Regions from separate parts of the Homo sapiens genome. Here all the other regions are reported to be linked to region 1. Evidence: microRNA targets listed by miRTarBase, many of them from high-throughput screens and not tested one by one. Region 1 holds a microRNA gene; each other region holds the end of a gene's coding sequence.
Evidence for each region. The annotated mature microRNA hsa-miR-6715b-5p reads ACAGGCACGACUGGUUUGGCA and lies in region 1 at 1,233-1,253, shown strand. An mRNA with a match to its seed (bases 2 to 7 or 8) in the 3' UTR can be bound and repressed. Matches are read on the target gene's strand: a 7mer-m8 pairs with bases 2 to 8, a 7mer-A1 pairs with bases 2 to 7 and ends in A, and an 8mer does both.

Region 2: miRTarBase lists PPP1R11 as a target of hsa-miR-6715b-5p. Seed matches in the 3' UTR shown: 7mer-A1 at 2,623-2,629.
Region 3: the mRNA of GABRB1 is a reported target of hsa-miR-6715b-5p. The part of its 3' UTR that is shown has no 7-base or 8-base seed match.

The regions. Positions count from the first base shown.
Region 1 is chr10:112,297,659-112,300,910 of GRCh38, reverse strand. It overlaps MIR6715B (microRNA 6715b), which reads left to right and starts at 1,223; the gene lies at 1,223-1,299. TECTB (tectorin beta) reads right to left here. Exons shown (of 11, transcript NM_058222.3): 8 at 2,680-2,842; 9 at 1,347-1,419. It overlaps MIR6715A (microRNA 6715a), which reads right to left and starts at 1,299; the gene lies at 1,221-1,299.
Region 2 is chr6:30,068,772-30,072,023 of GRCh38, reverse strand. PPP1R11 (protein phosphatase 1 regulatory inhibitor subunit 11) reads right to left here. Exons shown (of 3, transcript NM_021959.3): 3 at 1,691-2,920. The coding sequence ends at 2,718. RNF39 (ring finger protein 39) reads left to right here. Exons shown (of 4, transcript NM_025236.4): 4 at 333-1,754. The coding sequence ends at 913. Among named protein-coding and RNA genes, the nearest start is that of PPP1R11, 3.2 kb to the right of the region's middle.
Region 3 is chr4:47,425,578-47,428,829 of GRCh38, reverse strand. GABRB1 (gamma-aminobutyric acid type A receptor subunit beta1) reads right to left here. Exons shown (of 9, transcript NM_000812.4): 9 at 2,383-3,156. The coding sequence ends at 2,812. Among named protein-coding and RNA genes, the nearest start is that of COMMD8, 36 kb to the left of the region's middle.

The DNA.
Region 1 (3,252 bases):
CTCACTTGGAGATTGTCAGCAGAGCTCTTCTGCAAGCCCTGTACTAGGTTGAATCCCTTTGCTCCATTCAGGATGAATATCCCTTATCCAAAATGCTTGGGACCAGAAGTGTTTCAGATTTCAGATTTTTTTTTGGATTTTGGAATCTTTGCATTATACTAGTTGAGCATCCCTAACTGGAAAACCTGGAATCTGAAATCTAAAATGCTACAATGAGCATTTCCTGTGAGCATGACCTTTGAGCATCATGTGGGTGCTCAAAAAGTTTCAGATTTGGGAGCATTCGGATTTTGGATTTTCACATTAGTGATGATCAACTGTGCAACCATGGCACCAGCCCACTGTCACCCTCCTTAACAGTAATTTCTCTTTCCCTTAGTGTCTAACATCTCTCTCCTTGCTAGACAGTAAATCCCTTGAGGACAGGGCCTGCTTGGGTCACATTTATTTCTGAAATCCTAGTGCCCTGCCAGGCCAGGCAGTGCTGGATACTCAGTAAAGGTTTTTTGACTTGCACATGACATTCTCATGACATCTCATTTTTCCTTCCTTCCTTCCTTCCTTCTTTCTTTTCTTTTCTTTTTTCTTTCTCTTTCTTTCTTTCTTTCTTTCTTTCTTTCTTTCTTTCTTTTCTTTCTTTCTTTCTTTCTTTCTTTCTTTCTTTCTTTCTTTCTTTCTTTATTTCTTTCTGTCTGTCTGTCTGTCTCTCTTTCTTTCTTCTTTTTCTTTCTTTCTTTTTTTTTTTTTTGAGACGGAGTTTCGCTCTTGTTGCCCAGGCTGGAGTACAATGGCGCGATCTCAGCTCACTGCAACCTCTGCCTCCCAGATTCAAGTGATTCTCCTGCCTTAGCCTCCCGAGTAGTTGGGATTACAGGCGTGCCCCACCAAGCCCAGGTAATTTTGTATTTTTAGTAGAGGTGGGGTTTCACCATGTTGGTCAGGCTGGTCTCAAACTCCTGACCTCAAGTGATCTGCCCACCTCGGCCTCCCAAAGTGCTGGGATTACAGGCGTGAGCCACCGAGCCCGGCCCCATGACATCTCATTTTCTATTATTATTGTTCACTGCATGCTCTGTTTGGAAGCTCAGCACTTCCTGATTCTTTGGGGGTATTTGAATTTAGGGTGCAGTTAGAACTTTCAGAGTAGATAACAAACCTCAACTCCTTCGTTTGGCTTGAGCTGTTCCCCACCCCTGGCTGGAAGACTCCAGGAGCAGGTGAAGGTTGTGCCCACAGGCACGACTGGTTTGGCAATTCAGTAAAAATGCTCAAACCGGCTGTGCCTGTGGACGCAGCCCAGCGTGAACTCAACCGTTTGGAAAACAGAGGAAAACAGAGACGCTTACTCCGCAGGGAGAGCTCCACGACCAGGACTCCCCCGGTCTGGTCTCGCAGGAGGCGCTTCCGTTTATCGCAGGTCTGAAGACCCAGAGAGGCAGACAGGAGAGAAGCGGGGAAGGTGGGATGATGCGTGAGCAAAGGGGAGAAAAGAGAAAGAAAAGATATTTTAAAAAGGTCACAAATGGGGTGGAGTCACAATTCCCCAGTCAACAGAGATGAGTTACCTTTTTAAAAAATAACCCAGAAGACACACTGTTCATCCCTTCTCCAACTTGAATACAAAGAGAAAGCTTTACTTTGTTAACTCTTCAAGCCAGAGGGAATCCTTCTGGAAGAGGTCATTGAGTGTGGAAGGGATTGATCCCATTTCCTTTGATAAGGCTTCTACTTACCACTCTCACCACAATAATTAGAGAAGTGGACACTTGCAATTGTATTCTGGTTCATTTTCTTTTCTTTCTTTTTAAAAATATGGCATTGATACTTATCCTTTGATCAACTGTACAGTGTCTCTCCCCTCCTCTCCCTGGCTCTGCACTCTCTGGTTTCTTTCCCTTTTGCTGTTTGTGCTCATAAAGAACCATTTTCTGGCCAAATGAAACAACAGCAATAGAGATTATGACCTTATTTTTGTTGGTTACTATAGGCTATGTGGATAGCAGCCTCTTTGGAAACACCGAGGTCTCCAGTTGAAAGAGACCAGAAAGGAGAACAGTTTGAGATTTGGCATGTCTAAGTGTCTAAGTGGTGGTTCTCAGGCTTGAGTGAGCACCGGCATGACTGCTGGCTTGTTAAAGCACAGCCTGCCCAGGCCTTCCTCTCACGTGGTCAAATCAGCCATGATCCAGTGTCGGGAATTTCTGCAGCATCTCTCTGAAGTCACAGAGGTGAACCCTCGGGCTGTTCAGTCAAGACTAAAAACACCCACCTTTTGAGTTATTTCCACGGCCTGTCCCTGCCACCTAGACCTTGAATTTCCCTTGCCCTTTTCACTTCTTCCAAGTATTTCCAAGTCTGTTATCACTTTCATTTACCTACACTGCCCTCTGATGAGGGAAGGGCCATCATTACTTAACACACTTTGCTTAAGGATGAGAAAGCAGGTCCCAGCAGGTTAGGCGACACATGCCAGACCATGTGGGTTGTTGGAGGCAGGGCAGATAGGGCCCTGAGCATCTGCCCTCACGAGCATCTGCCCTTATACTCAGTGCCATTTCCTCCAGATGTCCTCAGCACACAGCTGCCCTGGCCTGGTTATGATCTCCCCACTCAAACTCCAGCTCCTCCAATACTGGCACCCTTTAGGTAACATTGTCCTTCTGGAGAGAGGCAGCTCACCACTGGGCAGGAGAGTTTCTCACTGTCGCAGATGAACGTCTCACAGTGTAACCACACCTTGGAGAGTTTGGGGATGTTCTGGAACCGGAAAGCATTGAATTGGAAGGTTGCCCTGTGATCTCTCCCATTCTCATGCACGAGGACGGTTTCATCCGTGGGGCAGCTGAGGCAGATGGGGAAAGAAGAGTGAACTGTCATCTCCTTGAACTCCAGCAAGAGCTGCTGAGCGATTTACACACAAGGCTCCCGAGGTGGTTATATGACCTCTAACCTTCCCAGGCATTTTGATTAGCAGCACCTCACTTGATCTTCACAACTGTGAGGTCAAGTTGATGAGCTAGGAGATGGGTATTACTGTCCTCATTCTATAGACAAGGTACGATGGGAGGGGAGTGACTTATAAGAGTCACACTTTTAGTAAGTTACACCTGTGTCCCAAAGAAAGAAAATCCCTAGGAGATAAGGCCCTCCGAGGACTGGAATATGTCCAGCCCTTGAGGGACATACAAAGTAAGGACAATGGCACCAGGTGCAGCATTGCCCCTGCTGCCACAGCTGCCTAAGCTCAAGTCA
Region 2 (3,252 bases), not on the chromosome of region 1:
AAGTCAGATCAGCCTCACTCTTCCTCCCCCAACCCCACAAACGAGACAACCTCTCATTTGATCTTCCTGCTGTGCTCCCTGCACTGGGCCAGTATGATCCTTCCCCAGGTCCAATTCTACAGAAGTGGTGCATCAGTACAAGGTCTGATATTGCCCAGGTCTGCTCTTCATATGCCTTCCTTCTTTTTGGTCCTGCAGTCGCCTTTTGAGCTGTTGTGTGGTCACTAGCTCTCAGTCTTTTACGTGATCTTCGTTGACTATTCTCCACCCTACCCCGCCTGTGATTTAGAAAACTCTCTCATGAGGTCCTCTCCCTGCCTCCCCGTCTCCAGCCGACCTGACCCTGGACCCTGGGACCGCACACCGCCGCCTGCTCATCTCCGCCGACCGCCGCAGCGTACAACTGGCCCCACCAGGGACGCCCGCGCCCCCTGACGGCCCCAAGCGCTTCGATCAGCTCCCAGCTGTGCTGGGTGCGCAGGGCTTCGGGGCCGGCCGCCACTGCTGGGAGGTGGAGACTGCGGACGCCGCCTCCTGCAGAGACTCTTCTGGGGAGGATGCGGACGACGAGGAGAGCCACTATGCAGTGGGCGCGGCCGGGGAATCAGTGCAACGCAAGGGCTGCGTAAGGCTGTGCCCTGCGGGGGCCGTGTGGGCCGTGGAGGGCCGCGGCGGCCGCCTGTGGGCCCTCACGGCACCCGAACCCACCCTGCTGGGCGGTGTTGAGCCCCCGCCGCGGCGCATTCGCGTGGACCTGGACTGGGAGCGGGGCCGCGTGGCCTTCTACGACGGCCGCTCACTCGACCTGCTTTACGCCTTCCAGGCGCCTGGCCCCCTGGGGGAGCGCATCTTCCCGCTGTTCTGCACCTGCGACCCTCGTGCTCCGCTCCGCATTGTACCAGCGGAAAGCTGAGTCTCGTCTCCAACTAGAAGTTTGGCCCGGCCACTGGCCCTGCAGCTGCTTTTTGGGGGTGGAATTCCCCACTCATTTCTGGGAACACATTCACACGCCCATTGCAGGAGTATTAATAGCAACCCACATTTTCGCCCCAAAATAATGAGACCTCACCTGGTCTCCACGTTTCCACGTCCCTGCTCAAAACCAAATCCATTCCTGCCTTCTGGCTCTCAGAATCTTCTCTCCCCTACAGCTACTACAGTACTTCCTGACTTCTCCCATTCAAACCATTCTAGGCCTGCAATGGGGAACAGGCCCTCCCCATCAGTATTGGTAAAGTGACCATGATTCCTACATAGAGGCTCTGCTGGTCAAATACTTGACTCCCACTCTTGCCACTCCTAGCTCCAGAAGGGCTCAGGGCCTTCCCCACAGATCTAAGGACTGGGCTACCCTGCCTGTCCACTGAGGTTTCTCCTAAAACAAGAGGCTTGACTCTGGTCTGGGCCCTGTGGCCCTCTGGGAAGCTTTGTACCTCTTTTGCAGGATCTGGGGGTGGGGAGGGACAAGCTAGTTCCCCAACCTCCTATGACTGCTTTCTATGCTCACAGCCTTTTTTCCATAAGAACCTTCTTGAAACTTCTCCCCGCACATACTCACGGAAAGGAACCAATGGTGCTATTTCCCCTCTCTCCTCCTCAACCTGGGAATACTTCAGACATCTCCAAACTCATCCTTGTGTATAGTCTCACACCCTTCCCCATAAGTATAAATGGGCCCATATTTAACACATTTTGTGATTTTGGGTTATTTATTTTGTGCATCTGTGGCAATAAATGAGATCTCAGTGGTGGTATGGATTTGACTGATCTCTGTAACTGTGTATGGCAAAAGGACCGGAAAATGAAAACCGGATCCCAGTAAGGGGTAGAGAGGGGCCAAGAGAACTGAACATCTGGGCTGCCGGAGAAATCAAAGTCTAGGAAGTAAGAGGTAAGAGTGTACTACAGGGGACATACCCCAATCTCTTTGCTCCCTCCCTCTTCCTTCCTCTCCCAGAGACCCAGGTCCCTGGGACTATATTGGATCTGTCTCTGAAGCTGAAAAACAAAAGGCAGAGGAGACAGTCGGCTCTAAGTGACCAATCTCAAGCCAGCTTTGTCAGAAATCCTAAATAACAGGAGAAGGGTGGGAAGAAAGGATATGATTATTTCTTATTCCATTTTCCATAAGAGGTGAGAATGACAAGGACCTCTTTTCTAACTCCTCTTGAGGGTGTGAGAAGGGTTAGCAGGAGGAGAAGGGCTGGGAGCTCTGAGGTCTCCTGTAAGACCTCATATCTCACAGGCAAGGACTAAGAATTAGGATTAAATATTTTAGTGGGATAGCTCTAAACCAGGATTAGCAAGCAAAGTTAGGGCGCAAATTCCTGGAATCTGACTGGGACCCTGGCAGTGAAAGCTGGGACTGTTGAAAACCCAATTTAAGTGTTCGCTACTCATGTTGAGAGTGCAGGGCCAAGATAACTAGATCCCAGGACAGGCAGTTTGGCAGTGAGAACAAAAGGAAGACACTGGGACCAAGGTGCCTAGATCCCTCGAGAGAGAAGGGTGGGTATTGGGAGGAAAAATGAGGACTGGGGAAACCCAGGAGGCTGGGTTCTGGAATAGCAGCAAGTCAGAATTTCAGGATCTCTGTTCGTCCTCCTCTTCCTCTTCCCTCTATCAGGCAGAAGAGAGGGAAGGAGGGGGCTGGAGAAGTAGCCACATGGATACATTTAGGGCCAGACAGACACAGGAATGCTGGAGGAGAGAGGGATTTAGTGCTGCATTGGCCCTGGAGGGGGCTGGGAAGGGTCAGGAGGCTGGGGAGGGGTGGTGGGGGTCGGTCCTAGGGTTGCACGACGCCGTCCTTTGCGGTGGCCACGTACACAGTGTGTATGACCACAGCCCTCTTCTTCCTCCTCATCACTTTCCGTGGAGCTCTCGCCAAAGGCCCGAGGTTTCTCATAAATACAGCAGCCTAGATTTAGAGGGAGGAGCCCAGTTAAAGAGGAGGAAGGGTAAGATATATAGTCAGTTCCATTCCCACTCAAACTCAGTGAAAATTCCTATTTTCTCCTACCTTCCAGGATCCAGCTTCCCCAGGCCCACCCTCTGGGACTCAGGCCCCACCCCTCTTGTCCTCTTAGAGAGCCACGAATTCAAAGCCCCACTTCTCCCACCTCTGACACTTCTTGCTGTCAGACCTAGGCAATTCCAGTTCTAGCCCTTCCCTACCTCTTTCCCTGATACCACAGCACCACCAAAAAAGTGACAGAACTATGAACATCTGGGGGCTTCTGGAAAGCCAGT
Region 3 (3,252 bases), not on the chromosome of region 1:
AGGGAGACAGCCAGAGAAGGAAGTTTTTTTTTTTTTCTATTCACTGTTCAGCCTGAAAGGGGAGGACTTGGCTAGGAGTGGGGCCAAGGAGGGAAGAATTTGGCCCACAGGTGTCCAGAAAGAAGTGGGGATAGAGGTCTTTAACCATAAATATTGCAGCTTCTCCATTCTTCTGGCTGCCACTGCCTCTAAAATCAGCTATTTACCAGGATTTTTATAATGCTGGCTGTGGCCCCTCTACTGCCCAGGAGGGCATATGGTGACACCATTTTGTGCCTGATGGGTAGATTCAGGCTTAATAAGTTTACATTTTACAAAGGTTAAGATATGAATTCAAAATGTTCTCTTTTTTTCTCAGAAGATGCTTTACATCTAAAACTACAGCATCAAAATCGTTAGATTTTTTAAAGACAAGATAAAAATATAATAATAAAAATACAAATATTCTCAATCTTTCCCAAGAATAATAATCTAAATAGATAAATAAAAATAAATTGTTTGTTAAGGAACATAGATTACAGATACTTCCTTTCTGATTTAGCATTTCATTCTTAAAAGCTTTTAAAAGAGCTTTGACACCCAGAATGATTCATTTTTATTAGGCATCAGCCAACAATTTTCCTTCCTGTGTTTAAGATAAATGGCTGCACAGTGGTTCCTTTGCGGTCATTACGGAATATTAACCTTACAATCACTGACATGGCCACATGCCACTCTATATGGCCATTTTATGATGGCAAAGCATCTCACCCTGCCAAGGGACTGAAGAGTTTCAAAATGGATGACTTCATACCCTAAGGCTGGAGATTTCCTTGACCAGGAAAGTGTGATAATACAACTAAAAATCTAAATAAAAATGTGGTCCCTATCATGAAACCACTGAGATCATTTTTTCCAGTTAAAGCAGAGTTTTTGTATATATATTATCTTCAGCCTTAACTATTCATTTATTTTAAGGTTCCCTTTTCCTCTTGCTTTCTAAAAGAATATCTTGTACCTTTCTCCCCTTCAGCTCATCAGTAAAAATTCAGCATCATCTGTCCGGTGAAGACTGTAATTTCCAGAAGCTGATGCTATTGTAAACATGGACCCCATCACAGTCTTAGGGAAAAAGCTAGATCATTAAGCCAGGCAATCGTCCCTATTATTACCTCAACCCTTATTTCACATTCATGGGTCAGGTCCCAAACCTCCTGCATCAGTGTTTGGTTAGCTTACAGTTTCATTCAGTCTTGCAAATGAACATACAGAATTCTTAGATACTGAGGTTGAAAAATAAAATGACAAGGTTTCAGTGATATAACATGGGAAGAATCTCAACTGTAGCTGGTTGGACATGTTTAGAATTGTGTTGGGCTACTGAAGGATGCCCCTTCTATGAGAACCATGACCAAGAGTAATCCACAAGCGGAGATAAAGCAGAGGAGCAATGACAGTGATTAATGAGTGTAGACAGGGTCTATTCTTTAGGGACTGGTGCATGTGTTGGAAGCTCCACTGCTTTTCTCATCGCTCTTGTTTTTATCTGTAGTTCTGCAATTTTCAAGATTTTCTTTAAAATGGAATTCTGGTCCTGAAGGGGAATGACATCAACATGGGTATTTGTGCATTTTCCAAAGCATTCATTCCAGTCTGGAATGCAGAGCTCAGAGAGCAGAGCCATGAAGTGCCAGTTGAGGCCTGTGTGACTAGCCTGTCACCATTAGATACTGCTCTCTAGAAGGCAAAGAAATATATACTATTTGATTTAAGATTTGGCAGTTCAGATAACTGCCCAGGCACCCTTTTCACAGCACATAAATCTTGCCTTCCTAATGGCAAGGGCAATATTTTTCTCAAGCAAAAATTGCTCACCATCCCCTTCCTCCCACACTCTCTGGAGCAGGAACTATGGAACTGGGGTGGCATGGCTTCCTGGCACAGCATCAGGGGGTTCCAGGCTGATGAGATGAATTCAGGGCTGCATGTTTGAAATGGCCAGTTAGAAAAATGGTCATTGCCTTCCAAGCTCCTTATTCTCAAGAAAAAAAGAAAAATGTTCTCAATGGCTACCAGGTCGACCAGGTTGGATTCTAATGTTAATTTAAAATTTGCCGGAAAGTCGAGAAAGAAGCATATTTCAGAATATCCAGCTTAATGGTGCAGTGAAGATGGCAGGTTGGGATTGCATAACCTTGACCAGCGCTTGTCCTTCCTTCCCTCTTCTTCTGTGGAGCTGTGGAGCCCTTTTACAACGGACATGGGAGAACTTAAGGATAGAGGGGACTCTTCCTTCCCTGTCTAAGCTCCTTTTTCTTTTGCCTTCTTCCTGGAAATCTGTAACTTGTCAATGGCTTTGTTTTTTTCTTCTGAGATCCTGGAAATTGTGTGTTTTTTTTTATGTTTTTTTTTTTTTTTTTTTGGCAGCATAAGTTTGTTATAGTTTACCAGGAAGCAGTGCAGGCGGACAGCAAGGTCCTCTTTTCATTTTCCCTAAAAAATAAATCAGTGAAATCCAGGGAAACTAGAAAAGACTGCTAAAGATCTACCTGTCTAACTTCTCTCTTTGTGTTTGTTTGTAAACATGGCAATTAATAGAGCTCTTAAAGAGCTGATAACCTGGACCACGGTAGACTGGAAAAATAATTTTTTTTTTGTTTTGTCTTTTTGAAGTAAACATGGTGCAGTAATAAAACTGATATGCAAGACCTAAAACCAATTGGATGGCTGAATCTCTTACCTCGAGAAACAGCAGTATCGCTGTTGGGGACCTGTAAGGTTAAAAAACAATAGAAGAGGAAAGTAGTCTAAATGGAACCATTAGAACAGACCTCAGTGTACATAGTAAAGCCAATAGACGACATTAAAAAGAGAAAAGGTGATGGGGAAAAACATTCGGGACCACTTGTCTATGGAATTCACATCAGTCAAGTCGGGGATCTTGACTTTGAGCTGGGAGGCACGCCTGCGGATGCGCCCCTTGCTGGGTACCCCGTGCCGGTCCAGGGCGCGCCCGTAGGCCTCGCGGCTGCTCAGGGGCTTGCGGTACTGGATGCTGGCGCTGTCATAGGAGTACATGGTGGCCTTGGGGTCGCTCACGCTCGTGAGCACTTCCGAGCCACTCGTCTCATTCCGGATTTCCAGGGTGCTGAGGAGAATGTTACCGTGGGCGTCGACCTGATGGCAAAAAGAACAGGCTCGGACACAAGTTGCAGGACCTTTGCCTGTTTTCATTAACCTGTTACTAATGATACCCCATAAGGCTCATTAAAC